Linked DNA regions of Homo sapiens. The protein of the gene in region 1 purifies or fractionates together with the protein of each later gene. This does not show direct contact. Each region holds a gene or a part of one and is shown in the gene's direction. Other genes may lie near its edges.

Region 1 (4,067 bases):
ACCCTTTATTGAGCCTACTGGGTGCCAGGCACTTCATGAACACAGTCCCGTGGGGAAGATGGTATCATCTGTTTTGTGATGTGGAAACCAAGCCTCAGTGGGGCCACCTTGCTGGAAGTCAGGTGGCTGGTGAGTGCTAAAAGCATGGGAATCTCCAGTTCGCTGCAGTGCCTTTCAAAGCAGAGCCTGTTTCCTCATTTGTCTCCCATGCTTGTGCACTGCTGCATCACACTACAACATTTGGGCCTGAGATGGAAGTATTGTTATCTTGCCAATTTTGAAAAATCGCCTCTGAGAGAGATCCCACAAACTTTGCTTTAGTACTTCCCATGTCTTACCAGTCCCCTCCCTGACCTGAACTCTTTGAAGTTAAGCTCAGAAACCTTGGAGGGTGGCCGGCCACAGTGGCTCACGCCTGCATTGCCAGCATTTTGGGAGGCTGAGGTGGATGGATCTCTTGAGCCCAGGAGTTCGAGACCAGCCTGGGCAACATGGTAAAACCTTGTCTCTACAAAAAATACCACAAAATTAGCCGGATGTGGAGGCTTGCGCCTGTGGTCCCAGATACTCAGGAGGCTGAAGTGGGAGGATCGCTTCAGCCCGGGAAGTCACGGCTGCAGTGAGCCGACATTGCACCACTGCACTCCAGCCTGGGTGACAGAGACTCAAAATAAATAAATAAATAAATAAATAACAGAAACCTTGGAGGGAATTAAAACTGACCAAGTTTCCGTCTTTATTTTATTTTATTTATTTATGTTTGAGACGGAGTCTCACTCTGTTACTCAGGCTGGAGTGTAGTGGCACGATCTTGGCTCATCGCAACCTCCGCCTCCCTGGTTCAAGCGATTTTCCTGCCTCAGCCCCCCAGATAGCTGGGACAACAGGTGTGCGCCACCATGCCCGGCTAATTTTTGTATTTTTAGTAGAGATGAGGTTTCACTATGTTGGCCAGGCTGGTCTCAAACTCCTGACCTCATGATTCACCCACCTTGGCCTCCCAAAGTGCTGGGATTACAGGCATGAGCCACTGTGCCCTTGCCCAGCCCAAGTTTCCATCTTAAAACAAACAAACAAAAAGTAACACTTTTTTCCCCAATTATAAAAGTAACATGTAATCGTTGTAGAAAATCAGTAAATGTAGAAAAGTAAAAAAACAAAGCTAACCACCATCCTGTTATTAAAAAATGACCAGAAAAACCCTTCAGGATATTTTCTCTCAGTTTTGTTCATGTGGATATACATATTTTTCCCTCTGGTATTGGACATACTGTATATAAATATTTTTTCATGTACAGTTAAATATTCTCAGAGAATATGGATAGATACTTAACAAGCCTCCTCCTCTTTTTCTCACAATACTTCTGTTCATAGAGATTCCCCCTTTTTTAAAATTATGATCTCTGTGCAAGGAGCTGGAGAGAGAAAGGAAAAGTGCCAAGTCCCTTAAGAGCCAGCCATTTTCCCAAGGGGACAAAATGAAACATTTGTGAAACAATGGTTTAGTGTTACTTTATTTGCTCTGAGGAATTCATATATGGAGAGGTGAGCTTGAGCTGGCTTTGAATCATGTGTTAAATAGAATACATGCTGCCATGCAGAGGAAAAAGCAGAGTTCAGAGGTGTCCTGAGCCCAGGATGGGTTAGTTTCACTTCAGATTTAGACTGAGGATGAAATTCTCACTTACTATGCTTATGATGCCCTCCATGTGTGCTAAGGGTAAAGATCCTAGAAACACTGAATGAACACAGATGAGTTGTATCCAGTTGTGTTTTTCATCTTGAATTGTTAATCTATATTCTTATACAAGCATTATAGCACATATATCAGTTATAAGGAAGAAAAACTTTTACTTTGAGGATTTGTTTTACAAATGAAAAACTCCTTTTCCTTTTTTTTCTTATTTGTCTTATTCATTCATGTTGGACTTTTCCCTTTTCTCAGGTTCTGCACCAGTATTGTGGCTCAAGACTCCAGAGGCCACATTTACCATGGTCGGAATTTGGATTATCCTTTTGGGAATGTCTTACGCAAGCTGACAGTGGATGTGCAATTCTTAAAGAATGGGCAGGTATAATCCGTACCATATAAGATAAAAAATCAGAAAGATTTGCAAACTCAAGTTAGCAGTCATTTGGATGGCCTGCTAACTTAAGTGTGTTATCAGTGTAAGACACAAAAAAATCACACCCCTGGAAAAACAAAGCCAGAAGAGAGGTTTGCATCAATTATGCTTATAGGAAGGACGGTCATTTATTATTTATTATTCAGTGTCTACTTAAAGAGGTCACCCAGTTTTCCATAGGGAAATCTCTTTTAGAGAGTGATCAATCATCCACTTATGCAGAGTCAGCTCTTTCCTCTGCTTTCCCATGCCCAGGCTGCTTCTGGAATATGGAGGGGCTGGGTAGTGCAATAACTAGAAACACCCAACTTTGGGATCTGACAGTCCCAGGTTTAAATCTTGATTCTATCAATTACTGTACTTCCTTTGTGAACCTGAGAAATTACTCATTCCCTAATTTTGCAGACTACAGCTCATGGAGGCTCATAACTACTTTACTGCGATAGTTATAAATGTTAAATGAAGTAGTCTATGTAAAGTTGTAGCCAAATAATAAATGGTCCTTCATTCTGCAAGTGTGATTGACCCACACCACTTTCTTGTGTATGATCTTTAAAAAATTATACTTAGATCTTTTGTTTATAGCATGGTCCCTTTAAAACTATAATCTAGTGTGTGCTGTTGTCAACTGTGTAAACTTTTAGAGAGACAGAATTAATCAATGTTCATTGAGTACGCAAAGCATGTTTTGCTGTAAAACAGAATACAGAGTGCAAAAGCCAGATTTTGGCTGTAAGGACAAGGACTATATTCCCTTTGTTCTTTGCATTTAGGGGTTGATTCACAAATACTAAAAACTCATTTACTAACTACTCAGTCATCTGCTTTTACAAACACTTTTTTTCATAAAAAATTCAAACAGTACAGAAATATTTAAAGTAAAAGTTTCTCCTTTCCAGTCCCATTTCTTTACTTTGCCACTATTAACAATTTGATTTCTAGCTGAATTACTTTAAAAATGATTTTAAGTGGTAACGATAATATAAATGCATAATAAATTCTCAAAGGAAATCTGCTAAATATTAAGTTATTACTGAATGAAGGATAATATTATTTATTATTTATTCATGTTTTTTCTCCATTGTTCTATAATGAGCTAATACTCTTAATAAAGAGACAAAGGAATAAATGCAATGAAAATAAATTATTTCAGCTGCTCTGAAACTCACTCTAATAGTTGTTGCTTCATTTGTTTTTGTTTTTCCTGGAGTTCCCATGAAATAATCTATAGAGAAATAGTCTGTAGAGGTAGTTTTACTCTCAGTACTCAGGTGACTGTTACTGAATATAGACAGTTTACACTTGGGTATTGCTTTTCTATGGAGGACTCATGGCCAAGAAATTGTTTTATGAAATTAAGAACAGGTTATCCACAAAATAATTCATCTCTCATTCTTGTCTAGTGTTTGTAATCTTAAAAGTATTTTTGGCTGGGCGCGGTGGCTCACGCCTGTAATCCCAACACTTTGGGAGGCCGAGGCAGGCGAATCACGAGGTCAGGAGTTCAAGACCAGCCTGGCCAATGTGGTGAAACCCCGTCTCTACTAAAACTACAAAAAAAAAAAAAAAAAATTAGCTGGGCGTGTGGGTGGGTGTCTGTAATCCCAGCTACTTGGGAGGCTGAGGCAGGGGAATCGCTTGAACCTGGGAGGCGGAGGTTGCAGTGAGCTGAGATCGCACCACTGCACTCTAGCCCAGTGACAGAGTGAGACTCCATCTCAACAACAACAACAAAAGTATTATCATACACAGGACCTCATTCGATCCCCCCAGCAGCCCTGTGAAGCAGGCATAAGTCAACATTTTAATCTTTACTTTCTAGATGAGGGGGCCCAGCTTCACAGAGACTGACTTGCCCCGAATCACAAGGCCTCTAGAGACATGGCAGAGGTAGGGCCAGAACCCAGGCGTTAGGCCTACTGATAGTTTTTGTTTACAGCC
Region 2 (4,067 bases), on another chromosome or scaffold:
GACTCCTCACTTTCTTGGTTTCCATACTGCTTTTGAAATAGCTTCACTTTGGGTGAGAACTTTAATATAAAGGCCCAGCTGGAGTAAATGAAAGTTGCATTAATTCATTTCACTGGCTTTTCCTCAGGGCCTAAATGCACTGACCTGAGTTCTGTGGCGACTGTAGAGAAGAATGGAACATGGTTCCTGCTTCCAAACAGCTGCATGCTAGCTAGTAATCACAGTAATGGAATTACCTCTCCATATGCCCCACCCACCCAATCATTGAAGTTAGAATAAATATTTCTCAGTTAATAAATATTAGAATTATTATCCTGGTGTGCTGGCATGCTCCTGTAGTCTTAGCTACTCGGGAGGCTGAGGTAGGAGGATCCTTTGAGCCCAAGAGTTCAAGACCAGCCTGGGCTACATAGTGAGACCCTGTCTCTAAGAGAAATAAAATAAAATTCTGGGACTAAGAATTAGATGAACAGGTAAAACCAGGTCTAGAGGAGGGCAGTGGTGGTGGGGGTGGCTCAGAGTTAGGAGTGCTAATGACACGCAGAGTAGGAGCTATATGGTGAAAGCAACTCTGGTTGGCGACAGGTGCGTGCATAAGAAATGCTGAGAAGAAGACAGCTTTTTTTGTTTTTTTTTTTTCCCCTGTGGGCAATCTCTGAAAATTGATTAGGTTTTCCTCATTCTCCTCTCTACACCAGGGGTCCCCAACCCCCTGCCATGGTACTGGTCTATTAGGAACCAGGCTGCATGGCAGGAGGTGAGCAGTGGGGAAGCGAGCATTACCGCCTGAGCTCTGCCTTCTGTCAGATCAGCCTTGGCATTAGATTCTCATAGGAGCACAAACTGTATTGTGAACTGTGTATGCAAGGGATCAAGGTTGCGTGCTCCTTATGAGAATCTAACTAATGCCTGATGATCTGAGGTGGAACAGTTTCATCCAAAACCATCTCCCCCACACTACCCATCCATGGAAAAATTGTCTCCCATGAAACTGGTCCCTGGTGCCAAAGAGGTTGGGGACCGCTGCTCTATACTTTAAGAGAAGAGGGTGATGTCCAGGAAGCAGTGGAGACCTTCGACCAGATGGGGTACACTAGAGGAAAAACAAGGCTTTGGGAGGCCATGACTAGTTAGAGACATTAGGCCTAGAAAAGCTTGTGAAATTTTTTTCACTCGTTTTATTTTATGTTTACCATTGAACATTTATTTTCTCAGATATGTTCCAAATCTACAAGCTGTCATTTCCTTCTGAGCCCTGTATACACTCTACCCGGCACCCAGCTCCTGACCCTATCTAGTGCTGTCTGGAGAAAATATCCCCTATTTTTCCTCACCCTGCCATTCCCAGAACAACCTGTAGTCCTAGCCCTGGTAAAGTGGCTGATAGAAACCACTTAGGAACATATTAATGTGTCCTTGAAAACTCAAAGTGGAAAGAGAATGGAGAGGAATCATAAAAGGAAAGAAGGGGAGGGGAGAATAAGCATAAAAGGTCATATTTGTGGCAGCAGGCATATAGTATCAAATGTATTTTGTTCTTTTTTCCCCAGGTATCTGTTTAATTTTCGAGGCGTAGCTGCAAGTTTCCGGTTTAAACACCTCTTCCTGTGTGGCTCACTTGTTTTCCATGTTGGTGATGAGTGGCTAGAATTCTTCTATCCACAGCTGAAGCCATGGGTTCACTATATCCCAGTCAAAACAGATCTCTCCAATGTCCAGTAAGCAGTTATCCCCCAATGCAGAGTTTCTAAAGACCCTTCCAATCTGCTTTTAAAAATGCCTTAATGCCTTAAAACCAGTCATGTAAGACATTTAGTCCTACGATTTTTTTCCATTGAAAGCTTTTTTTCCTCTTGGTTTGCATATATAGTATTGCATTATTATCCAAGTAGGCTATAAGTGGAATTTAATTTGAAAAAGCGCTTTAATACTGGTTTCAAATGAAACGTTCAGACAAAATGAAGTTAAAAAGCTCTAATCTCTCCAAGACTAAAGATAGGGATATTCAATCTTATTATATTGTCAAAAGGATTTTCAGATACAGCATGAGAATTGACTCAAGTGAAGCTTCAGCAAATTTCCTTTCATGACAGGAGGAGCTAGGAAGAAGTATAGAGAAGGGCCAGAGTTATCTGAATATTGTTATCATGGTGATATCTGTGTATATATATTTTTTTTCTATATATAAATATATTTATATATAAATATGTAAAATAATATAAATATCTAATATAATATATAATATAAATATACAAAATATATGTAAATATATAAGGTAACTTCTGTATTTTCTCAAATATGTCCCAAATCTACAATAGGGTATCTTTAATCAGTGTGTGGGGGTTTTTTTTTGTTATTATTTTGTTCTTGAGAGAACCCTGATATCTTTGCTTGAAGGAAATAATCCACCATCCACATACCTAAAATTATCCATAGACCTCAATCTATATCGTCTTTCTGACTTAGTGCCAATGAAGTTGGTCTATATTTCACAGTCTAAAATTCTTTTCATTTTAGAGAGCTGTTACAATTTGTAAAAGCAAATGATGATGTAGCTCAAGAGATTGCTGAAAGGTGAGTTCTGTTCATTTTCCCTTTTCCACTTTACTTTTTGTCATCCCCATTATGCCCTAGCCAAAGTTATCTGAATATTGTTATCATGGTGACATCTGTATTTTATCCTCATTATATGGAGATAATTCAGAACTAAACCTGTCCTGGGGGAAAACATACACACATGTCTACATATGCTTGTTTTAAAGGAAAAAGATGGGCCGGGCGTGGTGGCTAACGCCTGTAATCCCAGCACTCTGGAAGGCCGAGGTGGGCGGATCACCTGAGGTCAGAAGTTCAAGACCAGCCTAGCCATGGTGAAACCCCATCTCTACTAGAAATACAAAAAAATTAGCCGGGTGTGGTGGTGCGTGCCTGTAATCCCAGCTACTCGGGAGGCTGAGGCAGGAGAATCACTTGAACCCGGGAGGCGGAGGTTGCAGTGAGCCAAGATCGCACCATTGCGCTCCAGCATGAGCAACAAGAGCGAAACTCCGTCTCAAAAAATAAATAAATAAATAAATAAATAAAGGAAAAAGATTGTTAAGTTGTATTGCTACATGCATGTATGTGGATATGATTGCCATAGGGTTGGTTCTTGAGGCTCAAATGAATTAATTTATATAAAATGCTGAATAATGCTTGGCACAAGGTGAGCACTCAAATGCAGACTGCTATTATCATTAAATTCTGTGCTTTAACATTTTCTTGTTAAATCTTGTCTCTAGGGGAAGCCAGTTTATTAGGAACCATTTGCAGATGGATGACATCACCTGTTACTGGGAGAACCTCTTGAGTGAATACTCTAAATTCCTGTCTTATAATGTAACGAGAAGGAAAGGTTATGATCAAATTATTCCCAAAATGTTGAAAACTGAACTATAGTAGTCATCATAGGACCATAGTCCTCTTTGTGGCAACAGATCTCAGATATCCTACGGTGAGAAGCTTACCATAAGCTTGGCACCTATACCTTGAATATCTGCTATCAAGCCAAATACCTGGTTTTCCTTATCATGCTGCACCCAGAGCAACTCTTGAGAAAGATTTAAAATGTGTCTAATACACTGATATGAAGCAGTTCAACTTTTTGGATGAATAAGGACCAGAAATCGTGAGATGTGGATTTTGAACCCAACTCTACCTTTCATTTTCTTAAGACCAATCACAGCTTGTGCCTCAGATCATCCACCTGTGTGAGTCCATCACTGTGAAATTGACTGTGTCCATGTGATGATGCCCTTTGTCCCATTATTTGGAGCAGAAAATTCGTCATTTGGAAGTAGTACAACTCATTGCTGGAATTGTGAAATTATTCAAGGCGTGATCTCTGTCACTTTATTTTAATGTAGGAAACCCTATGGGGTTTATGAAAAATACTTGGGGATCATTCTCTGAATGGTCTAAGGAAGCGGTAGCCATGCCATGCAATGATGTAGGAGTTCTCTTTTGTAAAACCATAAACTGTGTTACTCAGGAGGTTTCTATAATGCCACATAGAAAGAGGCCAATTG
Region 3 (4,067 bases), on another chromosome or scaffold:
AAAAACTCATTGATATTTAAAATGGAATCAGATAGGTATTTTCTTAAGACTACATTTCCTTGCTGGGAGCAGTGGCTCCCGCCTATAATCCCAGCACTTTGGGAGGCTGAGGCAGGTGGATCTCTTGTGGTTAGGCATTTGAGACCGGCCCGGCCCATACGGTGAAACCCCATCTCTACTAAATATACAAAAAACATTAGCCAGGCATGGTGGCACAAGGCTTGTAATCCCAGCTGCTAGGGAGGCTGAGGCAGGAGAATCGCTTGAACCCAGGAGGCGAAGGTCGCAGTGAGCTGAGATCATGTCACTGCACTGCAGCCTGGGCGACAGAGCGAGACTGCGTCTCAAAAAAAAAAAAAGACTACACAAAGAAATTCTTACTGTAAGTTGCATATTGAAAGAATGCCTGACACTTACCGGGCACTCATTTTGAGCCTGGTACTAGGCACAGCCCCTTTGTACATTGCTTCATTTATGGGATTCATTGTGCATTTCACTCATTCTATTGCTTTTCTTTTGAACTCAACATTATACATTTATGGTATAAAACAAAAGAGTTTACAGTAACTGTTCAGTAAGTGCTTCTTTAGTTTTTCAGTAATTTAGAGTAATAGGTAGAGCTTCAACATTTAAGGAAAAATTTTCTGCTTTAGAAAAAAATAGTGATTGGCTCACCTGGCCTTTTTTCCCTGTGCTTCCGTCAACATTGTACTTTTCCTTCTTGATAATACAGGGCATAAACAAAACAAGAACACTGCCCCAACAAAAAAACCCCAAAACTATGATACCATCTGGCATTAATTTTTTTTGGAAATTCCAACTCTTGTTAACAAGTCTGCATGATGAGTCTTCATGAACTGTCCTCCCAAGATTTATGTGTATTTTTCCTTCCTGAGTTTATGTAATAAGATCATCAGTGAAAAGCTCATTATTAAAGTGCTTCTACACTTCCAGTAAATGTGGGAATTTAAAAGAATGCATAATAACATAAAATAAGAAATGAGAAAGAAAAGATGGTAATTTATCTATTGTTAATGTCCAGTTGCAGATTACTTCAGCTTTCAGGTAAAAGCATAAACAAGTTGACACCCTGATATTAATATCTACACACCATTTGTTTTATGGACTCACTATGCATTTGGTTCTTCATATGCCCTAGGGGAGGAGACCAAGAGCGTATGGACAGAAACTGGAGAGAAAGATTATAGATCATTAGATTCCAGATTATTAGTGCTGTTGAAGGGAGGATTGAGCTGCTTCAGGAAGGAACAAGCTTTCTGTCAGTGTGTGGGTTTGAGAATTGGCAGAACAGTTAGTAGTGAGGGTTCAGGCAGTGGGTGGGGGCTGGACTAGATGATCTTTAAATTCCCTGTGTTGGGAGGCTGAGGCAGGAGAATGGCATGAACCCGGGAGGCGGAGCTTGCAGTAAGCCAAGATCATGCCGCTGCACTCCAGCCTGGGGGACAGAGTGAGACTCCGTCTCACAAAAAAAAAAAAAAAAAAAAAAAAAAAAAAAAAAAATTCCCCGTGTCCTGGGATTCTGATTCTGAAGTGTCAGAGAATGGGAGCAGATGATAAGTTGTCAGGATCATCTTGGGGTTATGGAATGAAGAGAATGTCTTTTTGAAGTGAGTTTCATGTTTTCTTTGTTCTAATATTCTTTTTTTTCCTTGCTCATATCAACCAGAAACCCCTCAGTTCCTGCACATGGGTGAGATCATAGACGGTGTAGACATGAGAGCTGAGGTTGGAATTCTTACCCGGAATATTGTGATCCAAGGAGAAGTGGAGGACTCATGCTACGCAGAAAATCAGTGCCAATTTTTTGATTATGATACCTTTGGGGGACACATTATGGTAGGCAAAAGGATTTGATTATTTCTTTGAAATCCTGGTTGCTAAATATATGTTTGAAGAAACTGTCAAGTTTTGGAACAAGATATAAATGGATATTAAAAGCAAATCATGTTTTGTTTCTCAAATGACAATGAGGAGGTTTTAGATGATTAAAATAGAATGTTATGACTTCAGTTAGTTGACCTGGACCTCTAGTTAAACCATTTAAGAATTGTTCCATGAAGAGTCAAATCAATATATTGGGAAGAACCAATTACAGAGACCAAAAAACAAAACAAAACAAAAAAAAACTGAAGGCTCTTGGTTGGTATCCATGCATGCGATTTCTGAAAGAATCAATTAGTTTTTTTAAAAAGCATAGTATTACCAAAGGGTTAGCAATACTAGCAAGCACATGCAAAATATGTTCCTATAAAAATATTTTTTGTATGCAAATTTTTGTTCTGGAAAAATTTTGAGCACTTACTATATGCTAGGCAGTATTCTATTAATATATACTAATCTGTTGGACTTCTGGGCTGCATTTTGGCTACATGTGTTTTTAAATCACTTTTTGTGCATTGAGTAGGCTGTGGTTGTAAGTAGTATTTCTGTTACAAGGAATTTTTTTTTTTTTTTTGAGATACAGTCTCATTCTGTCACCCAGGATGGAGTACAGTGGCATGATCACAACTGACTGTGGGCTCAATATCCTGGGATCAAGTGATCCTCCCACCTCAGCCCCGCCAAATAGCTGGGACTACAGGTGTACACCACAGTGCCTGGCTAATTTTTGCATTTGTTTTTTTGAGACAAGGTTTTGCCATGTTGCCCAGGCTGGTATTGAACTCCTGGGCTCAAGCAATTTGCCCACCTTGGCCTCCCAAAGTGCTAGGTGTGAGCCACTGTACCCCGCCTGTTACAAGGATTTCTGAAATGTCGATCAGTACTATTCCCTTGTTGTTAGTAATACGATTGAAAATCTAGTGTTTAAATATATTGAGAGTGCTCAAACTTTGGATCACAGAAGAACTTTTAAAAGTAACTTAAGCCAACAATATTATGTGCTAACTAAAACACTGGGGAGGATCTAGAAATAAATAACTATTTATCAGACTCTGATGGAGGTTATAGAAGTGAAAGAACAAGACGAGACTGGGAATGACCAAAATATTTGAACAAATCAAAACACTTAGCAGAGATCATTATTGCAGCTTTCCTGATTACATTTGCCTTTATTCCTAATTGGAGGCTATTTTTGTGGCTCTTTAAAGTATTTGCTTTTGTAAAGAAGCATTTCCTAAATTATTAACTGGCAATCTGGGAAAACAGGATGCAAAAGAAAATCGAATGTTTTAATAAGTATTCTCCTTTGGATGTTTTCTACTAGAACAATATTTTTTGCTACTTCCCTATTCTGAAAAGTATGAGTTTGATTTTAGTACCTTGACTTACAGATAATGAAAAATTTTACTTCAGTCCATCTTTCTTATGTGGAATTGAAACACATGGGTCAGCAGCAGATGGGGCGATACCCTGTTCATTTTCACCTGTGTGGTGACGTGGATTATAAAGGAGGATACAGACATGCAACATTTGTGGACGGCCTGTCTATTCATCACAGCTTCTCAAGGTGCATCACTGTGCATGGGACAAATGGCTTGCTAGTAAGTAGCCTCGCATTAGGTCAACCCATATTATTGAAATAGTTAACTCTCTTTAATTCTCATGTCTTCTCAATTTTATATATGTAAACTGTTTAGCCACATGCCTTGCTCTATCCTGCCTTTTCTGAGCATTCCACGATTTTTCTGTCTGAAGGAAGCCTACCTTTCCAACCACCCAGAGTATCCTCTTTTAAATTTAATTCAATTTTATGTCTTGTATTTTATTTTTATTTATTTATTTACAACTTATTTTTATTTTTTTCCCCTGTGGGACCCAAGCAGATTATCCCCTTCAGAGATAAATTAAGCCTGACATTTCACTTTGCCCATTCTGCTAAGGTTCAAACCTGTTTTTCCACTTGTACTGAACATGCTACACTGGATAGCGCTTGTCACTTAAATCACAATCATTCTTGTTACCAATGACATTAATATACTTTTATTTCTGCAGATAAAAGACACCATTGGGTTTGACACACTAGGTCATTGTTTCTTTTTGGAAGATGGTATTGAACAGAGGAATACTTTGTTCCACAATCTGGGACTCCTCACCAAGCCGGGTAC
Region 4 (4,067 bases), on another chromosome or scaffold:
AAATGAAGATCTTTTGGATGGATGAATGAATAAAAGTGGAGTGAAAATTTATCAACCTGACTGATGAGTAAGATAATTGATTAGAAATGATGAGCCAAACTGATTTTTAACTTTCAAAATTTTGGCCAATCTACAAGGTATTTACTGGGATGAAAGGAAAAAAGGCAAGATTCCTAGTCAGTCAATGAGTTAAAACATTAATAGTGATAGTAATGCCTTGAGTATTTGCCGAAGAGTTGACTGAAGTTATTTCTCATGTAACATTCTAAAGAATACAGATATCTTTTATTCCTCATGTAAAGAAACTGCCTCTCTATTCAGAATAAATTCAGTGGTAGCTTGAAGCTATAAAATAGGGATTGAGGCTACAGTCTAGAAATAAAACACTAAAAACAATACATTGGTAATAAAGATAATTTAGGATTCTTAGGTTTGTGGGCTATGCACTATTTTGTATGAAGAAGTTTCAAGAGTGTGTGTAAATATATATAAGCCATCTTCTGTAGAAGAGTGTGTGTGTGTGTGTGTGTGTGTGTGTGTGTGTGTGAATCTTCTGTATAAAATAGCTTCAGTTGTCCTGTTTCAAATGTGGGTGACTCTAATGTTTCAAAAATGCTTAGCTCAGTACTGACACATAATACATTCAAAAAATAGTGGTTCTTCTTTATTGTTTACTTAAATCTATTATCTGTATGTTATCTGTAACAAGCAGGCTGAGGTTAATAGGGACAATTGATAAACTGAACCAAAAGTTTAAAAATTAAAAGGTAATACATTAAAAGGTAGAAGTTGAAATGAAACACAATGAGAAATTTTTGTTGGCTGAAGAAAAAAATGTTATAATGATTAAAGATCGATCTGTGATTGCCATGTCAGTAAGGTATCTTCTTTCCTTTGGAATAGCTTTACTTGCTATCAAGAACCTGAAGGTGTAGGGTCTTCAAATGGTGCCCATCTCCCACACAATTAAAAATATCCACATGGACTAGTCTTTGAGTCTCTGTAGAATTTCAGATCAGTGGTTGATTCAGATAGACTCCTCCCCTCAAAAGAGAAGGTCCATATCTCGCCTACCCTACCCTCTGTGGACAAGGTGTCCCATATGGTATATTCATGCCATAAGCAGAAGTGAGCCTGCCTGTTTATCTAGAATGCCCAGGGTGAGAGACGTTAGGCATGAGATACCCCTTTTAGTCAAGCAAGTTGACTGCAGAGCCAGCACCAAGAGAGTTGCCTGGATAGTACCGCAAGGTGCTTTTCTTCCTGCATATATATTGTTGGCCTCCTTTTACCTCCCTGACTCCCCAAGAGACATCTCTTCTCTCACTTCTTTTGTACCAGAGGAAAGTGGTCTCTCTGCCAGGAGGGTCTGGGCCCAGACTTGCTCGTGAAGACTATATCTGAGGAGACCCAGGTGATTTCTACATGTCCACTTTCCACCCGGGCACTCTGCATCATCAGGCTTGTTTAAAGGAAACTTTAATCACAGCTGGTTCCTAAATTAAGGTGTCACAAATAATGACTCAATTAATATAGTTAAGCATAGTCCATCCATGGACTATCAATATTCAAATAGAACATAATAAAACATAGAAATGATTATCAAATTACACTAAAAAGATGGTCTTTATTTGGTTATTCAAATATGTTTCCAGATCTTTCATTACTTTGGAGTTACCACTGAAAGCATTATACACACACTAACTCTCATTTGGGTAATAGTCTAAAGTTATACAATTACACTATCCAGTATAGTATCCACTAACCACAGGTGGCTTTGAACACATAAAATGTGGCTAGTCAGCGATGAGAGGGCTGTAATGTAAATTACATACTGGCTTTTGAATACTTAGTATAAGAAAACTCATTAATTTTTATGATATATATTGAAACAAACACTTTAAAATTATTGATTACATAATATTTTGGATTTATTAGGCGAAATAAAATTTTAGGTTAAATAAAATTAATTTTATTTTTACTTTTTTCATGTGGCTATTATAAAATTTAAAATTTCCAATGGGCTTGTATTATATTTCTATTGGACAGCACTGCTGTAGAGAAACATTAAGTTCTCTGTGTAAAAATAACGCTATCTCTTTAGGAGATGCTTTCCTGATATTTATGCATAAATGAGTAGAACTTTCACTTTCTTTTCTAGACTAAGTGTTCTATAGTTACTGGGCCTTCAAGCTGCCTGCCTGTCCCTCTCTTACAGGAAAGACCCATCTCAAGTTAGTCACCATTACCCATATTTAGATTTCTTTCTGGAAATTTTATTACCTTAGCCAGCCTCCTGGTTCATATTATATAACCTATTTGAAAGAATTTAATTAGCATTGCATTATTAAACTAATGATTACCTAATCCTCACTTCTACTTGATTCATAGGAGTTATTAGCTTAACATTAAATAGCAAATATCTCACTGTTGAAACTTCAAATATGTTTTTCTTGATAACTTTTTACTTTTTCATTTGCAATGTGCTTTAAATTGTAGCTTATGAAGCTGAGATTGCAGATTGGTCATTTTGAAAAATCATCCCTGAATGAAGGCTGTTATACAATTATGTAGAAAATCAAGACAGAGAGCTTCACTAATAAACTATCAGGTTACCAGAAAGAAGTTTCCTTATTTCCAGCAGTTTCCCAAACTTTATGTCCCAAAAGGATGAGGTTTCCACCTAATTTGAGAGATGAGGCTTTCTAAATGCACTTTAGTTTTTGCCTTAAGTTTACTTGGTCACTGAGTGATATACCCAATGACTTGAAAATATATCCCCTTGGCAACAGTTCTAGGGTCAGATGCTGAAATCCGTTGCACATGTGGGTAATTTATCCATTCAGTTGTTCATTGAGGGATGCCTAAGGGCCTGAACCTGGGCATACAAAAGAAACATACTCCTTGTCCCAAAGGCTTTAAAGTTTATAAGATAGGTTATTATAGGAAAGTATGGTGAGATTTAATCTAGGTAAGACAATAAAGTGATGCATTCCTGAAGAATTGGTGTTCAAGTGGGGGAACTGAAAAATAATCAGAAGTTAGCCAGAGGAAGAGGCTATGGAAAAGTTTGCCAGAAAGAGCAAACTGTGTGTATAAAGACCCTGAAGTCTTTGAGAGCACGATGCTTTTGAAGAACTAAAAATTGTGTACAGTTGCACTATGGAGTGTGAGCTAAACTGTAGGTTAGAGAGGCAGGCAGGAATTACTTCTGATACAACTCTAAGTATGAATTTACCCTAGGATATTTAAAACTGGGGAGTGACATGATCAGATTTGTGTGTTTGACAGATTCTCTGGTTGCAGGTTAGTGAATGCTTTGGAGTAACTGGGTCAAGACTGAAGGCAATGAGGCAGTTGTAGGAAGATTTTGTTATAATTTAGACTACAGATGACAAGTGTCTGTACAAGGACACTGGCAATAGCAGTGGAGAAGAACATGGAGATTCTGAAGGTATTTAGGAGATAGCACTTGGTAATTATTGAATGAAAGAGATGAGTGAGAATGTTCCAAAGATGTTACTGAAGTTTCTAATTTGGGCTGTGACATGGATGATGATCCAATATACTGAAAAAGGGAAGAGCAGCAGGTTTTCTGGCAAAATGATGAGTTTCGTTGGCTTGAGATTCCTGTGAGACATAGAAGTAAAAATCTAGTGATCAGTTCTATGATCAGTTCCATGTATGGGTGTGGTAGACAGTAGAGAGGTCTGTACTAGCAAATCAGAGGTGAGTAATTGACGTAACCCCATTCACCTCCAAGGCTTTGATTACCATCTCTCTGGGGTAAATAGATCAAATGGCCAATGGCAAATTTCTAAGGATTCCTACAGTTCGAGAAGTGATTAGAATAGTGCTGCTCAAGTCTGGCTGTAACTTAAATTCTCATGCAGAGCTTTTAACAGTTCTGGTGGCCCATCTCAAACTACTAGAATCTCTGGGGTAAGTCTATAGGGCACCAGTAGTTTCCAGAGGTCCCCAGATGATTCCAGTATTCATCCATGCTTGAGAACCGCTGGAGAAGAAAAGAGGCTGAAAAAAAGGCTAAGAGGGTGAAGCCAAAGAGG
Region 5 (4,241 bases), about 69 Mb from region 1:
CCAGTCCTGTCCTCGCAGATGTGCTGTGAGAAGCAGATGAGGGAGCTGTGTCAGGCACCAGGGGAGGACCTGGGCTCCTGAGGACACCGAGTTCGTGGTGTGTCTGCCCTGCTGCTGTCTTGGTTCTCTGCTCAGCTCTGGAACTTGGTGCAGCTCACTCTCCCTCTGCTCCTCTCCCTGCAGGCTGTGCTGCAGGCGCTGGGGTCCGTGGTGGCAGTGGAGGAGCGCTCGCTCACAGGGACCTGGGATTTGAGCATGCTGCACCGCTGGAGCTGGAGGACGGGGCCTGGCCGCCACAGAGGTTTGGGGACCCCCGCTTCAGCTCCCTACCCAGGACTCCCAGCCAGGCTCAGCAGCTGGTCAGACCCGGTGCACATCCAACCATCTGCCTGTCCCGGCCTGTGCGACCTTGCGAGGCTGCTTTCCTACTCTGAACCCGCAGCCCTCCCAAATCTACTACAGTCGGTTAAGAAAGGCTTTGGGTTAGTCTCTGCCTGCCAGGGCTCCACACAGGCGTGTGTGTGCACTTGTACGTGTGCACACGCAGACCACACGCCCTGCCTGTGCCCTGGGTGACAGCTAGGGGCCCAGGGGCTTCTGCCCACCTTGGCCCTGCTGACCTCAGCCCATCAGCCGGTCCCTGCCTCATACGACATGTGCCACCGTGAGCTCCTGCACTACAGGCAGCTTCCAGGCTCCACTCCCTGTCCGCACCATGCCCTCTGCCTGGGACGCACAGGTCCCATTCACTCTGGCCAGCACCTGCTCAAGCTCCCCAGGATGCCTCCCCAGAGTCACCAACCAGGCCAAGTGCCTCCTCCACTCTCCTGGCCCCAGGGGTTTCTTCTGTCCTGTGCAGCTCGTTGTCCACTACACACAGCATGGTGGCGGGTGCATGGTGCACGCTCAGTTGGTGGTGGGAGGAAGGAAGGGACGGAGGGAGGGAGGGAGGGAAGATGATGTTGGTTGGAAAGAAGGAAGGAAGATGGATGAGTGATAGATAAGTGGACGGCTCCCTCCCAAGATCGAAGCCCAACCCCAGGGCATGCCTTCAGGGGAGCCTGGTGAGGCAAGGGCAGACTCACCAGATGGTCTCAGAAAGCTCTTGGGCTTTGAGGGCAACACCCATGAGGAATTGAGGCCACTAGGGCCAGGACCAACCTATGAATTGCCCTCAGGGTGGGCAGAAACGCCAAGAGGCCCACAGGAGTCCTGGCAGAAGGGGATGCCATAGGCCGTTGCCACGGTGGGAGCCACAGCAGACTGTAGCCAGGTGCAGTGTGGTGAGAAGGAGGCTGGGAGCCACAGCAGATTGTAGACAGGTGCAGGAGGGTGAGAGGGAGGCTGGGAGCCACAGCAGACTGTAGACAGGTGCAGGGGGTGAGAGGGAGGCTGGGAGGAGGCATCCCAGGCCACACTGGACAGATCACCTCTGTTCCCCTAGGTGACACCACCTCTCCCTCGAGGCCACCAGGAGGCCCCATCATCACCGTCCACCCAAAGGAAATCCGGACGTTCTTTATTCACTTTCAACAGCAGTGAGCCCTGGGCAGATGCCCCGGCCCCAGGGCTTCCCCCAGGAACTCCATGTAACAGAACAGACCCAGGACAGGGAAAAGCAGTGCGGAGGGATGGGACTGGGGAGTCAGCTGCTCATCTGCAGGCTAATGGCAGGAAATGGTCATATTTGGGGTTTTTCCCTAATTTTTTTAAACAAAAATTACATTACAAGATCCAGGTTCTTCCCCCCCACACTCAATCAAGCCAGCCCTCTCCTCTTCTGTCACGTAAAGGATATTTGGCACACTCATGCGTCATTCATTCACAAAACACAAACCCAGGACTTTCTGCCTAAGGCAGAGCACAAGACTCACAGCAGCACCGAAGCGCATCTGCCGTCCGGGCCCTGCCAGGCTTGCCAGGCTGCCAGTGGTAACTGTGGACCTACTGCGTGCCACGTGTTTTCATAGACTCATCCCATGCTGGCAACAGCCCTGCAAGGGGCTTGGCTCTGCCACAGGGCAGGAGAGGAAGTTGTAGCGCCTAGCGAGAGTTCCAGCCCCAGACGCCCACCTGTGCCTCAGGGCACCGCCTGCCGAGCAGAGAAGGCACAGCAGCCGTCAGAGTCCATGAGAGGTGAAACCACACAGCAGGGATGTCCAATATCAGAACTATTAATATCAATAAAAGTATAACCTTCCCAGGTCTATGCCCAAGAGAATTGAAAACATCCATCCACACAATACCTGTGCTCCCGCGTTCATAGCAGCATTACTCAAAAGTCAAACGGTAGCAACAACCCAAATGTCCATCCACAGATGAATTAAGACATGAAGTGTGTTCTGTCCATACAATGGAATATTATTTGGCCATAAAAAGGAAGGAAATTCTGACGCATGCCACAGCCTGAGTGAATCCTACAAATATTACGCTAAGTGAAAGAAGCCAATCACGAGTTTATGTGAAATGTCCAGAATAGGCAAATCTGTGTATCAGAGACAAAGCACATTGGTGGTTGCCAGGTACTGGAGGAAGAGAGAAGAGGCATGACAGCTAACAGGGACGGGCTTTCTTTGGAAGATGATGAAATTGTGGAATGATGGTTGCACAACTTTGTGAATATACTAGAAACCAATGAATTAAAAACTTTGGAAGATGAATTTTATGGTCTGTGAATTATATCTCAATTTTAAAACTTTTTTTTTTTTTTCCCGAGACAGAGTCTCACTCTGTCGCCCAGGCTGGAGTGCAGTGTCAAGATCTCAGCTCACTGCGACCTGCACCTCCTGGGTTCAAGCAATTCTCCAGCCTCTGCCTCCCGAGTAGCTGCTACTAGAGATGCACCACTGCGTCAGCTAATTTTTGTATTTTTAGTAGAGACGGGGATTCACCATGTTGGCCAGGCTGATCTGGAACTCCTGACCTCAGGTGATCTGCCTGCCCCGGCCTCCCAAAGTGCCAGGATTACAGGCGTGAGCCAATGTGCCCGGCCTAAACCGTTTTAAAGAGTAAACTGTAAGATGTAGGAAATTATTTGGTACTCTAGGGCTGAAGGAAAGTACCCAGAAAGGACCAGCTTGGAAGGAGTCAGACCTCTGGACAACGTGCAGTTTGGCCACCAGACAGCAAAGACAGTCTCTGGTTTGGCCAGGCAGGAGCTGGGCTGGAGTTGCTGACCAAGCAATAGGCCACCCCTGTGAGGTGGGGTCAGGTGAGCAGCCACCAGAGGCATGGATGTGCAGTGGGAGGTTGAGGCACAAGGAGTGAGGCAGGAGCCCTTTAGAGCATGTGGGCTGCATGAGGCTTGGTTTCTGTGTCAAGAAGACTATGGAGGCTGGGCAGTGGTTCATGCCTTAATCCCAGCACTTTGGGAGGCCAAAGCAACCGGATCACTGGTGGTCAGTAGTTCAAGACCAGGCTGGCCAACATGGTGAAACCCCATCTCTACTAAAAATACAAAGTTAACCGGGTGTGGTGGTGTGCGCCTGTAGTCCCAGCTACTCGGGAGGCTGAGGCAGGAGAATCAATCACTTGAACCTGGGAGGCGGAGGAGACCTCCGCCTCTGCACTCCAGCCTGGGTGACAAGAGTGAGACTCCGTCTCAAAAAAAAAAAAAAAAGGAAGACTACGGAGGCCAGGCGTGGTGGTTCATGCCTGAAATTCCAACACGCTGGGAGCCCTAGGCAGAAGGATCGCTTGAGCCCAGGTGTTCCAGACCAGCCTCGGCAATATAGTGAGACCCCATCTCTACAAAAACTATTCTTTAGACGAGCGTGGTGGTGTGCACCAGTGGTCCCAGCTACTCTGGGGGCTGAGGTGGGAGGCTCACTTGAGCCCAGGAGGTCGAGGCTTCAGTGAGCCATGATCATGCCACTAACTCCAACCGGGGTAATAGAGCAAGACCCTGTCTCAGAAAAAAATAAAGAAGACTATGGAAATGTTATCCCCAGCGCAGCCAGGCTGTAGAAAAATCATGTGCACTGAAAGTACCATCACCCATGCTGACCATCCCCGTCCAGAACAGAAACAGCAAGAGAGCCACTTCCCCCTGCGGTCCCTCCAGCACCCAGCACCCTCAACTGGGAAGAGTGAGAAGAATATAGATGACAGGGGAAAACCCACCCACAATAGACAGAATATTGGCTAAAATCTAACATCCATTTGTTGCTTTGTTGTTATTTCATTTCATTTTACTTTTTTAGACACAGGGTCTCGCTCTGTCACCCAGGTGGGAGTGCAGT
Region 6 (4,067 bases), on another chromosome or scaffold:
ATTTTCCCCAGCTGAGGCACAGGCCTTTCAGAGACCACAGCAAGCCATCACAACACGAGAGGTGCTGTGCACCAGAAGCTTCTCTGACTGGAAGGTGAGATAAGGACCCATTAGGGTGATCCGAGGAGCAGATGAAGTGCTTTGGGATATGATGGAAGACTGCAGATATCAATGCATCTTGCTGGAAATAAAACTGGAGCTTTTTTGCTTTGGTTGCTAATAAAATCTTTAAACAGTTGTCTTATGTCTTCTCTTACTATCATTTTTTCCAAGCTTCTGCACTTATTTTCTGGATTTTTGGGAATGGGACAAATAAATAAATGAAGTCCCCAGAATTTCTCAAACTGTCCTTTATTTTACTAGTTCTTCATCCCTATTCTCCCAGATGTATTAGTTTTTTTGTTGTTGACTTTTTTGTAAAGTGTTACAAAGACATACCACAGTGCCTGAGGAGCTTCACCCTTGTCATCCTGAAGTTGGTTTCTTAAGGTTGTTTCAGAATGGAAAATTGGTGTAGATTATGGGGTGAGAGGTGTGTGGCAGAAACGTTTATGTAGCTCCAGTCAAGAAGTGAGAAAGGCCTCAATTCCTGCCTAGGTTCATGTTAAATGATATCTCAGAATTAACGGAAATAATCAAGACCCTTTGGATGAGTTATTAATGAAGAAATGGTGTAAAGAAGTTAATTTATACCCCCAACCATAGGGCAGATGAGTAATATTGACACTGTCAATTAATGTATTTACTTCTTTTTGTGTGTAATATAGGCTGTGGTGTCTAATTTCTGTATTAAAGTATTACAGGTGGGTCGTATGACAAGGGCTCTTCTTTAGTTCCTAATGATTGTGAAATCAGAGCTTTTTAAAGTTGGACAGGACCAAGGAGATTGTCTATGGTGATAAACCTGAATCTCAGAGAGGAGATGACTCACTGCCTCCTGACTTCCTGTGAGCATTCTTTCCACTCTGGTACAAGTGTGTCTCCACAGTTCTGTGACTTGATTCTACTTATGGACACCATAGAAAGTGTTACTTTGGGGGTAGAAAGACCTTTGCTGTATTAATTCACCCATAATTAGTTCCTGAATAAATAAGAGTTGCTGGCAATTATAGTTTCTGATGGGTGTTTACTTTTATTGTCTTCTCTTTTGAAATAAAGTCTTTTTGTTGAATTTTAATTTTCTTTTTCAGTTCAAATCTGAACATCAATGATGTACTAGGGAACTACTCATTGACTCTTGTTGATGCATTGGATACACTTGCAGTAAGTGTTCACCTTTTTTTAAAAAAATGAATTAAGATGTTTTAGAGTTGATTATCCCTAGTTCCCTCCAGCAGTGGGAATTCCAGGGAGCCTGATAAGTCAAAATGTATCATTAGCTTTGATAACTGTTATTTATTTTAATGACCTTAATGGGGAGAACAAGAAAAGTGTTGAAGGTTAAATGAGGGGAAATGTGATTCCATTAAAAAAAGGAGAAGGAATGTACGATTGATTTTAGGGAACCTATTTTTTTTTAACCAGTTTCTATCTTATTCCCTAAAAGAACCCATAATGAAGCTCATTAATATTGATAATTATAGTCGTTGCTATTCCAGGAGTAAAAGAGAGAAGATCTAAGGGTTGGCAGGTACCCTGAAATGTCATCTAGCCACTGGCTCCCCCAGGAGCAAGTTGGAGCCCTAGCGCCCATCCTTATGTGGGGCTCCCTAGAAACCCTTCTCTTTTATTTGCCACTTCCTGTTTTGTGGACACTCCATGCCTGAGCTGCCAACGTGGGTGCTGGCATTACTGCCTCATCCTGTGGTTTTGCTCATTGACTCTGGAGAACTAGAGGCCTTTGAGCAGATATGCAGAAGCACCTTGAAGGCAGTGTGGCACTCAGTACATGGTGCCATGTCTGTGTGCTTCATCTGCTTCACCTTTTGCCATTAAAGCAGTTTCCAGGGGACTGTATTCCAGCATAGTGTTGTTTTAAAATCTTCTTAGTTAAGGTGATTTTTACAACCTCTTTGCTTTCCTTCATTGTCCAGCAAGTCTTTACCATGAGAAATATCTTATTGCAGTCTAGCCCAAATGTTGTACTTTTATTTATTCTTGTTTCTTTTAACATGCCATAGAAGAGTTTAAAGCTGTCTGTTAGGAGATAGAATTGGGGCCGGGCGCAGTGGCTCACGCCTGTAATCCCAGCACTTAGGGCGGTTGAGGTGGGAGGATCAGCTGAGGTCAGGAGTTTGAGACCAGCCTGACCAACATGGTGAAACCCCTTCTCTACTAAAAGTACAAAAATTAGCTGGGCATGGTGGCGGGCGCCTGTGGTCCCAGCTCTTCAAGAGGCTGAGGCAGGAGAAATGCTTGAACCCAGGAGTCAGAGGTTGCAGTCAGCTGAGATTGCGCCACTGCACTGTAGCCTGGGCAACAGAGTGAGACTCCATCTCTGGAGACACACACACACACACACACACAAGAATTGGGTAATGTGCTAGCCAAGTTTGCATTATGATTGTCTAGTATCTTGCTAGTAGTAGAATTACCAGAACTTGGAAAGAGCTTGAGAGATCATTCTACGTCCTCATTTTATAAATAAGTAGTAGAAATAGGACTAGGCCCTTGGTCTAATAGGAAATCTGGGGTACTGATTTAGTATAATTTAAATTACAAAGCAACTTAGTTTCCCAATATCTCCTTCTGAAGTTATTGCTGCTCTGTTTCAGTCATTTACCATCACTGATCAAAATGTGCCCAGACAAGTATGTTCGACCTTAGAGCTAATTTGTTGATGATACCAGAGGCTGACTCAGCCTACAAGTGTTGCTTAAAGGAAACGTCCTAAGACTCAATGTATAGCTCATGAAAGCCTACTCCTTGTCCCTGAGAGCTTTGTCATCGTCGTCGTCTTTTCTTTTCTTTTCTTTTCTTTTTTTTTTTTTTGAGAGAGTCTCGCTCTGCCGCCAGGCTGGAGTGCTGTGGCGTGATCTTGGCTCACTTCAACCTTCAGCTCCTGGGTTCGAGTGATTCGCCTGCCTCAGCCTCCCGAGTAGCTGGCTTTTTTTTTTTTTTTTTTCCCCATTTTGTTTTTTTATCCCTCCATCTTGCCTGCTATTCTGTTGTTCACCATACTCTCCCCCACACTTAATGGTGTCTGGTGCACAGTAGCAGTGCAAATGTTTGTTCAAAAAATGAATTCTGACTAATGAAGCATTTCCCAACACAGATTCCAAAGATACTTACTCCCTGAAAGAAGAGTTCTGTTTCTAAATGAACTTGAGAAATTCCGTATGTCTGGTCCCACTATTAGAGAGCCACAGTGCCCATCAGCATTTTAAAGACTCTGAGAAGTCCTACAGTCAAACAAACAAACCCATTTAGCTCCTCTGTCCCATTCAGCCATTTTCAAACATTAGTGTGATTTCAGAACATAGTCACTCAGGATTCTATAGCTATCTGACCATAATGATAAACTACAATAAGTAAGAGCTGTTGACTTCCTTCACCTTCCTCACTTGATTTGAGCTCCTGTCAGCACCTGCAGCTTCACCAGATATTGTTGCTGGTAAACATCTGTAAGGAAACAGACTCATCTCTGTGGTTTTCATTGTAGAATATCCGGCCTTTAGTGCTTCAGGCTTATTTTTCAGGTGTTACTTCTGTTGAAGTTTTCCTTTTCTTTTGCTAACATTTAAACAGGCTTTAACAGATGTGCTAGGGAAACACTGTGAAGATAGCAGTCCCCTGACCATTGGATGCAACTTGCAGCATTATTGCATCATCTTCTAAAAAGAAAGAACTGAAAGCTAGAAATGTCTGTACTTACTCTGTAGGTTACAGCAAAATAACGATGAGGTGGAAAAAATGTAGTTAGGCACAGCTTGGTTTTATACATTGTAGGGAGACATGAGACATCAATCAGTATGTGTAAGATGTACATTGGTTCAGTCCAGAAAAGTGAGACAACTTGAAGTGCTGGGGGTGGGGTGAGGGGGCACTTCCAAGTCACAGGCAGATAAAAGACAAATGGTTACATTTTTTTTGTCTTTTTTTTTTGAGACAGAGTCTTGCTGTGTTGC
Region 7 (4,663 bases), on another chromosome or scaffold:
TCTCCTGACCTCGTATCCGCCCGTCTTGGCCTCCCAAAGTGCTGGGATTACAGGCGTGAGCCACCGCGCCCAGCACCTGGCTAACTTTTGTATTTTTAGTACAGACGGGGTTTCACTGTATGTTGGCCAGGCTGGTCTCAAACCCCTGACTTGAGGTGATCTGCAAGCCTCAGCCTCCCAGAGTGCTGGGATTACAGGCGTAAGCCACCGCTCCTGGCCTAAGGTTGGCTATTTTTATGGTTATTTCTTGATTATATGATAAACAAGGGGTGGGTTAGTAATGAATTTTTCAGAAAAGGGGTGGGGATCCCCCCCAACTGAAGGTTCCTCCACTGTTTAGACCATATAGGGTAACTTCTGGACGTTGCCATGGCATTTGTAAACTGCCTGGCGCTGCTAGGAGTGTCTTTAGCATACTAATGCATTATAATTAGCGTATAATGAGCAGTGAGGACGATCAGAGGTCACCTTCCTGTCTTGGTTTTGGCAGGTTTTGACCAGTTTCTTTGCTGCATTCTGTTTTATCAGCGGGGTCTTGTGACCTTTTATCTTGTGCTGACCTCCTGTCTCATCCTGTGACGAAGGCCTAACCTCCTGGGAATTCAGCCCAGCAGGTCTCTGCCTCATTTTACCCAGCCCCTGTTCAAGATGGAGTCGCTCTGGTTGGAAACTTCTGACAAAATGACAGCTCCTGTTATGTTGCTGCTGCTGCCGCCAATGGACAGCCTTTAACGTGCCCGCCAGCCCTGCTCCACCGCCGGCCTGGGCTCACATGGCCCCATCCCTCCTCGAACCTCCTAGCCTGTTAGTTACTCAAATCTGCAAGCTCTCTGCCTTCTCAGGGCCTTCAATAAATGCATTTCTTCTGTCTGGAAGGCTCTTCCTTTCCCTCTTCTAGCCAATTCCTATTCATCCCTGAGTTTCAGATTAAAAGTCACTTCCTTTGGAAACCTTACTTCGCTACTTCGCTACTTACTGCACTACTTCGCAGCATCACAACTATGATGGAAATCCTTACTTACGTTAAATATCTGGTTTCTAGGTCACCTCCCTGACGGGGACGGTAGGGACCGTCTTCTCGTTCATCAGTAGGGAAGTAGCTATGGCAGTGCCTGATACAAAATAAACTCCAAATGTGTATTTATTAGATGGTTGGATGGAAGTTATTTGCGTGTGAAAGCGCGTTTTACCCGAAGGCGCTCTGTGAGGGCCAGCGGGTCCCCTTCGGCCCTGGAGCCGGGGTCACACGCTCCCCACCGCGTGCGGTCACGAGACGCCCCCAAGGGAGTATCCTGGTACCCGGAAGCCGCGACTCCTGGCCCTGAGCCCGGGCTTAGCCTTCGGGTCCACGTGGCCGGAGGCCGGCAGCTGATTGGACGCGGGCCGCCCCACCCCCTGGCCGTCGCGGGACCCGCAGGACTGAGACCATGGAGGCGGTGGCGGTGGCCGCGGCGGTGGGGGTCCTTCTCCTGGCCGGGGCCGGGGGCGCGGCAGGCGACGAGGCCCGGGAGGCGGCGGCCGTGCGGGCGCTCGTGGCCCGGCTGCTGGGGCCAGGCCCCGCGGCCGACTTCTCCGTGTCGGTGGAGCGCGCTCTGGCTGCCAAGCCGGGCTTGGACACCTACAGCCTGGGCGGCGGCGGCGCGGCGCGCGTGCGGGTGCGCGGCTCCACGGGCGTGGCGGCCGCCGCGGGGCTGCACCGCTACCTGCGCGACTTCTGTGGCTGCCACGTGGCCTGGTCCGGCTCTCAGCTGCGCCTGCCGCGGCCACTGCCAGCCGTGCCGGGGGAGCTGACCGAGGCCACGCCCAACAGGTACCGCCCCGAAGCTTCCCCGCGTCCGCCCGAGGCGCTTACCCCCTCCCGGAGCCGCTGCCACCCAAATCGGGAGGCTGAGCGGGGAGCGCTGGCCGGAAGGCCCAGCTGCGCCGCCTCCAGCAGCTGTGTGGCCTTGAGCCAGCCACTCTGCCTTTCAGAGCCTCGGCTGGCCCACCTGAAAAACGGAAAGAAGACGCCTACCGTGCAGTGTTATTGTGAGGATTTGCACGATGATGGGCATAGAATTTGTGGTGCACAATTGGTGATGAGTGAATTTTCTTGCCTTCCTCCCCCACCTTCTCTTTGAACCTGCGGACTGAGGAAGGACGCCTCCATCCCCCACCCTACAGGCCTGTGTTCCAGCGCCTGCCACACTATGGAGTGATGTGTTCACACAGCTGTCCTCCCCTGCCCATCTGTTAGACTGTGGGGGCAGGGATTCCCCGTTCCAGGAAAACACCGTGCAGAGGAGGGGCTCTGGCAGTGTGGCATGAAAGTGGAATATGCCACCCAAATACCCGCCAGGCTAGAGGGCCCTGGGAGAGTGCAGGGGACGAGTGCCTCAGAAGCCCAGCCCCGGTACCTGGTCTCAGCTCCACCTGGGGTGGGTCCCAGTGTGCAGCAGAAGGGCCGAGTTTGGAGCCCCTCCCCTCTCCTCTAGGTGGGGGATGGGGGATTTGTTCCAGGGCCGTGGACCCTCCAGGGTGGGATGCGCCCCTGCTCATGACACTGCCCGCAGGTACCGCTATTACCAGAATGTGTGCACGCAAAGCTACTCTTTCGTGTGGTGGGACTGGGCCCGCTGGGAGCGAGAGATAGACTGGATGGCGCTGAATGGCATCAACCTGGCACTGGCCTGGAGCGGCCAGGAGGCCATCTGGCAGCGGGTGCGTGCCCACTGTCCCTTCCCCACCCTCCTCTATGGCGGGAGCCACCGTAGGTGTTTTCACCCGCCCCCCAGCATGGGCGCAGTGTCTCTCTCTAGAAGTGCTTTCAGCGTGCACAGTGGCTTGGGCCTCCTAAAAACTGAGGCTTCCGGCCGGGCGCGGTGGCTCACGCCTGTCATCCCAGCACTTCGGGAGGCCTAGGCGGGCGGATCAGGAGTTCAGGAGATCGAGACCATCCTGGCCAACATTGTGAAACCCCGTCTCTACTAAAATACAAAGAAATAGCAACCTGGGCAACAGAGCGAGACTCTGTCTAAAAAAAAAAAAAAAAAAAACTGAGGCTTCCAGTTTGAGGAGTGGGGCTCCTTCCCCCATCTCCCCTATGCAGCCAATCACCTGGTCCCTTGGATCCAACTCATGGGCAGCTCTAGATCTGCCTCCCTGGAAGCTTCTGTGCTGCAATGGCTGCTCCAGGCTCTGCTTAAGCTCTTCACACAGTTGCCCTGCCCTTCCATCTGGCACTCTTGCTCCATGAAGCCTTCTAAGGCCTTCCTGTTGGGGGAAAGCCCCTTTGTGCCCCATCTCCTCACCCATGCGACAAAGGCAACACAGTGAACTCACCTACTCACAGGTCTCTTTCCTCTGGGCTGTGGGCTCCTTGATGGCAGCGTTCGGATTTTGTCTCAGTAGCCCTAGCACCCAGCACAAAGAAGCAATGAGTGAATGGTTGTTGAATGAATGAATGAATGAATGAAGATGAATATATTTCTATGTGTGGGCCCTTCTTCCTCAGGTGTACCTGGCCTTGGGCCTGACCCAGGCAGAGATCAATGAGTTCTTTACTGGTCCTGCCTTCCTGGCCTGGGGGCGAATGGGCAACCTGCACACCTGGGATGGCCCCCTGCCCCCCTCCTGGCACATCAAGCAGCTTTACCTGCAGGTAAAAGGATGGAAAAGGGAAGGGGCAGAATCGGTGATAGATGGTCATGGGCCCAGGAAGGGTGGTATTAGGCCGGCCCCAGGGCTCTTAACTGAGGCGGGGGGCTGCGTGTATCCTGGGAGATGAGGGCCTTCTCATAGGACAGCAGTGGCCATGCTCACCACCCTTCCTTCTGTTCCTCCAGCACCGGGTCCTGGACCAGATGCGCTCCTTCGGCATGACCCCAGTGCTGCCTGCATTCGCGGGGCATGTTCCCGAGGCTGTCACCAGGTGAGGTTCCGCTCACCCCCTCCACTTAGCTCAGAGAGGGAATTTTATTCCCTTCTAGAACATGACTTAAAAACTTAAGCTCTGGGCCGGGCGCAGTGGCTCACGCCTGTAATCCCAGCACTTTGGGAGGCCGAGTTGGGCGGATCACCTGAGGTCAGGAGTTCGAGACCAGCCTGGCCAACATGGTGAAACCCTGTCTCTACTAAAAATATAAAAATTAGCTGGGCATGGTGGCACGCGCCTGTAATCCCATCTACTTAGGAGGCTGAGACAGGAGAATTGCTTAAACCTGGGAGGCAGACGTTGCAGTGAGTCAAGATCACGCCATTGCACTCCAGCCTGGGTGACGAGCGAAACTCTGTCTCAAACAAACAAACAAGCTCTGGACGTAGGCCTGGGTTTGATTTCTGACTCTGCTACTAATTAGCTGTGTGACTTCGGGCAGATGACATGACTGCTCTGTGCCTCAGTTTCCTTACTTGTAAAATGGGATCTCTACCCACTTCGCTGTAGGGTTTGTAATTATCTCTCGATCTATCTGTGACTTTGCACAGAGTGCTAGCAAATGGCAGCCCTTGGGAGTGGCAGCAGGGGTGCTCCAGTGTCCCTTGTCCCTCCTGTTCCTCTGTGCTTCCCAGCCATCCTCTCACATGTGGTTGGGAAAAGTCTTCAAGGCTCACCTGAGACCTCCCCTCCTTCAGGAAGCCTTGCTAGTGCCCCGCATGACCTCCTTTGCACCTGCTAATGTCTGGC

The links.
Region 2: the proteins of NAAA (region 1) and POGLUT1 purify together in Homo sapiens (affinity purification with mass spectrometry; 3 studies listed by BioGRID and IntAct, with this or other methods). This does not show direct contact.
Region 3: the proteins of NAAA (region 1) and CEMIP2 purify together in Homo sapiens (affinity purification with mass spectrometry; 3 studies listed by BioGRID and IntAct, with this or other methods). This does not show direct contact.
Region 4: the proteins of NAAA (region 1) and ITGA4 purify together in Homo sapiens (affinity purification with mass spectrometry; 3 studies listed by BioGRID and IntAct, with this or other methods). This does not show direct contact.
Region 5: the proteins of NAAA (region 1) and MAN2B2 purify together in Homo sapiens (affinity purification with mass spectrometry; 3 studies listed by BioGRID and IntAct, with this or other methods). This does not show direct contact.
Region 6: the proteins of NAAA (region 1) and EDEM1 purify together in Homo sapiens (affinity purification with mass spectrometry; 3 studies listed by BioGRID and IntAct, with this or other methods). This does not show direct contact.
Region 7: the proteins of NAAA (region 1) and NAGLU purify together in Homo sapiens (affinity purification with mass spectrometry; 3 studies listed by BioGRID and IntAct, with this or other methods). This does not show direct contact.

What each region holds. Positions count from the first base shown.
Region 1 is NC_000004.12:75,934,114-75,938,180, reverse strand, and holds part of NAAA (N-acylethanolamine-hydrolyzing acid amidase isoform 1 precursor), read left to right. Parts: intron 1-1,945; coding exon 1,946-2,072; intron 2,073-4,067.
Region 2 is NC_000003.12:119,489,001-119,493,067, forward strand, and holds part of POGLUT1 (protein O-glucosyltransferase 1 precursor), read left to right. Parts: intron 1-1,550; coding exon 1,551-1,718; intron 1,719-2,517; coding exon 2,518-2,574; intron 2,575-3,281; coding exon 3,282-3,438; 3' UTR 3,439-4,067. UniProt on the Homo sapiens protein: Dual specificity glycosyltransferase that catalyzes the transfer of glucose and xylose from UDP-glucose and UDP-xylose, respectively, to a serine residue found in the consensus sequence of C-X-S-X-P-C.
Region 3 is NC_000009.12:71,730,141-71,734,207, reverse strand, and holds part of CEMIP2 (cell surface hyaluronidase CEMIP2), read left to right. Parts: intron 1-1,687; coding exon 1,688-1,857; intron 1,858-3,293; coding exon 3,294-3,503; intron 3,504-3,954; coding exon 3,955-4,067. UniProt on the Homo sapiens protein: Cell surface hyaluronidase that mediates the initial cleavage of extracellular high-molecular-weight hyaluronan into intermediate-size hyaluronan of approximately 10-5 kDa fragments.
Region 4 is NC_000002.12:181,460,057-181,464,123, forward strand, and holds part of ITGA4 (integrin alpha-4 isoform 1 preproprotein), read left to right. Parts: intron 1-4,067. UniProt on the Homo sapiens protein: Integrins alpha-4/beta-1 (VLA-4) and alpha-4/beta-7 are receptors for fibronectin. They recognize one or more domains within the alternatively spliced CS-1 and CS-5 regions of fibronectin. They are also receptors for VCAM1.
Region 5 is NC_000004.12:6,619,744-6,623,984, forward strand, and holds the end of MAN2B2 (epididymis-specific alpha-mannosidase isoform 1 precursor), read left to right. Parts: intron 1-183; coding exon 184-301; intron 302-1,444; coding exon 1,445-1,542; 3' UTR 1,543-3,619; downstream 3,620-4,241.
Region 6 is NC_000003.12:5,194,019-5,198,085, forward strand, and holds part of EDEM1 (ER degradation-enhancing alpha-mannosidase-like protein 1), read left to right. Parts: exon of another isoform or gene 1-947; intron 948-1,190; coding exon 1,191-1,263; intron 1,264-4,067. UniProt on the Homo sapiens protein: Extracts misfolded glycoproteins, but not glycoproteins undergoing productive folding, from the calnexin cycle.
Region 7 is NC_000017.11:42,534,846-42,539,508, forward strand, and holds the start of NAGLU (alpha-N-acetylglucosaminidase precursor), read left to right. Parts: upstream 1-1,395; 5' UTR 1,396-1,427; coding exon 1,428-1,810; intron 1,811-1,971; coding exon of another isoform or gene 1,972-2,028; intron 2,029-2,552; coding exon 2,553-2,700; intron 2,701-3,493; coding exon 3,494-3,640; intron 3,641-3,824; coding exon 3,825-3,910; intron 3,911-4,663. UniProt on the Homo sapiens protein: Involved in the degradation of heparan sulfate.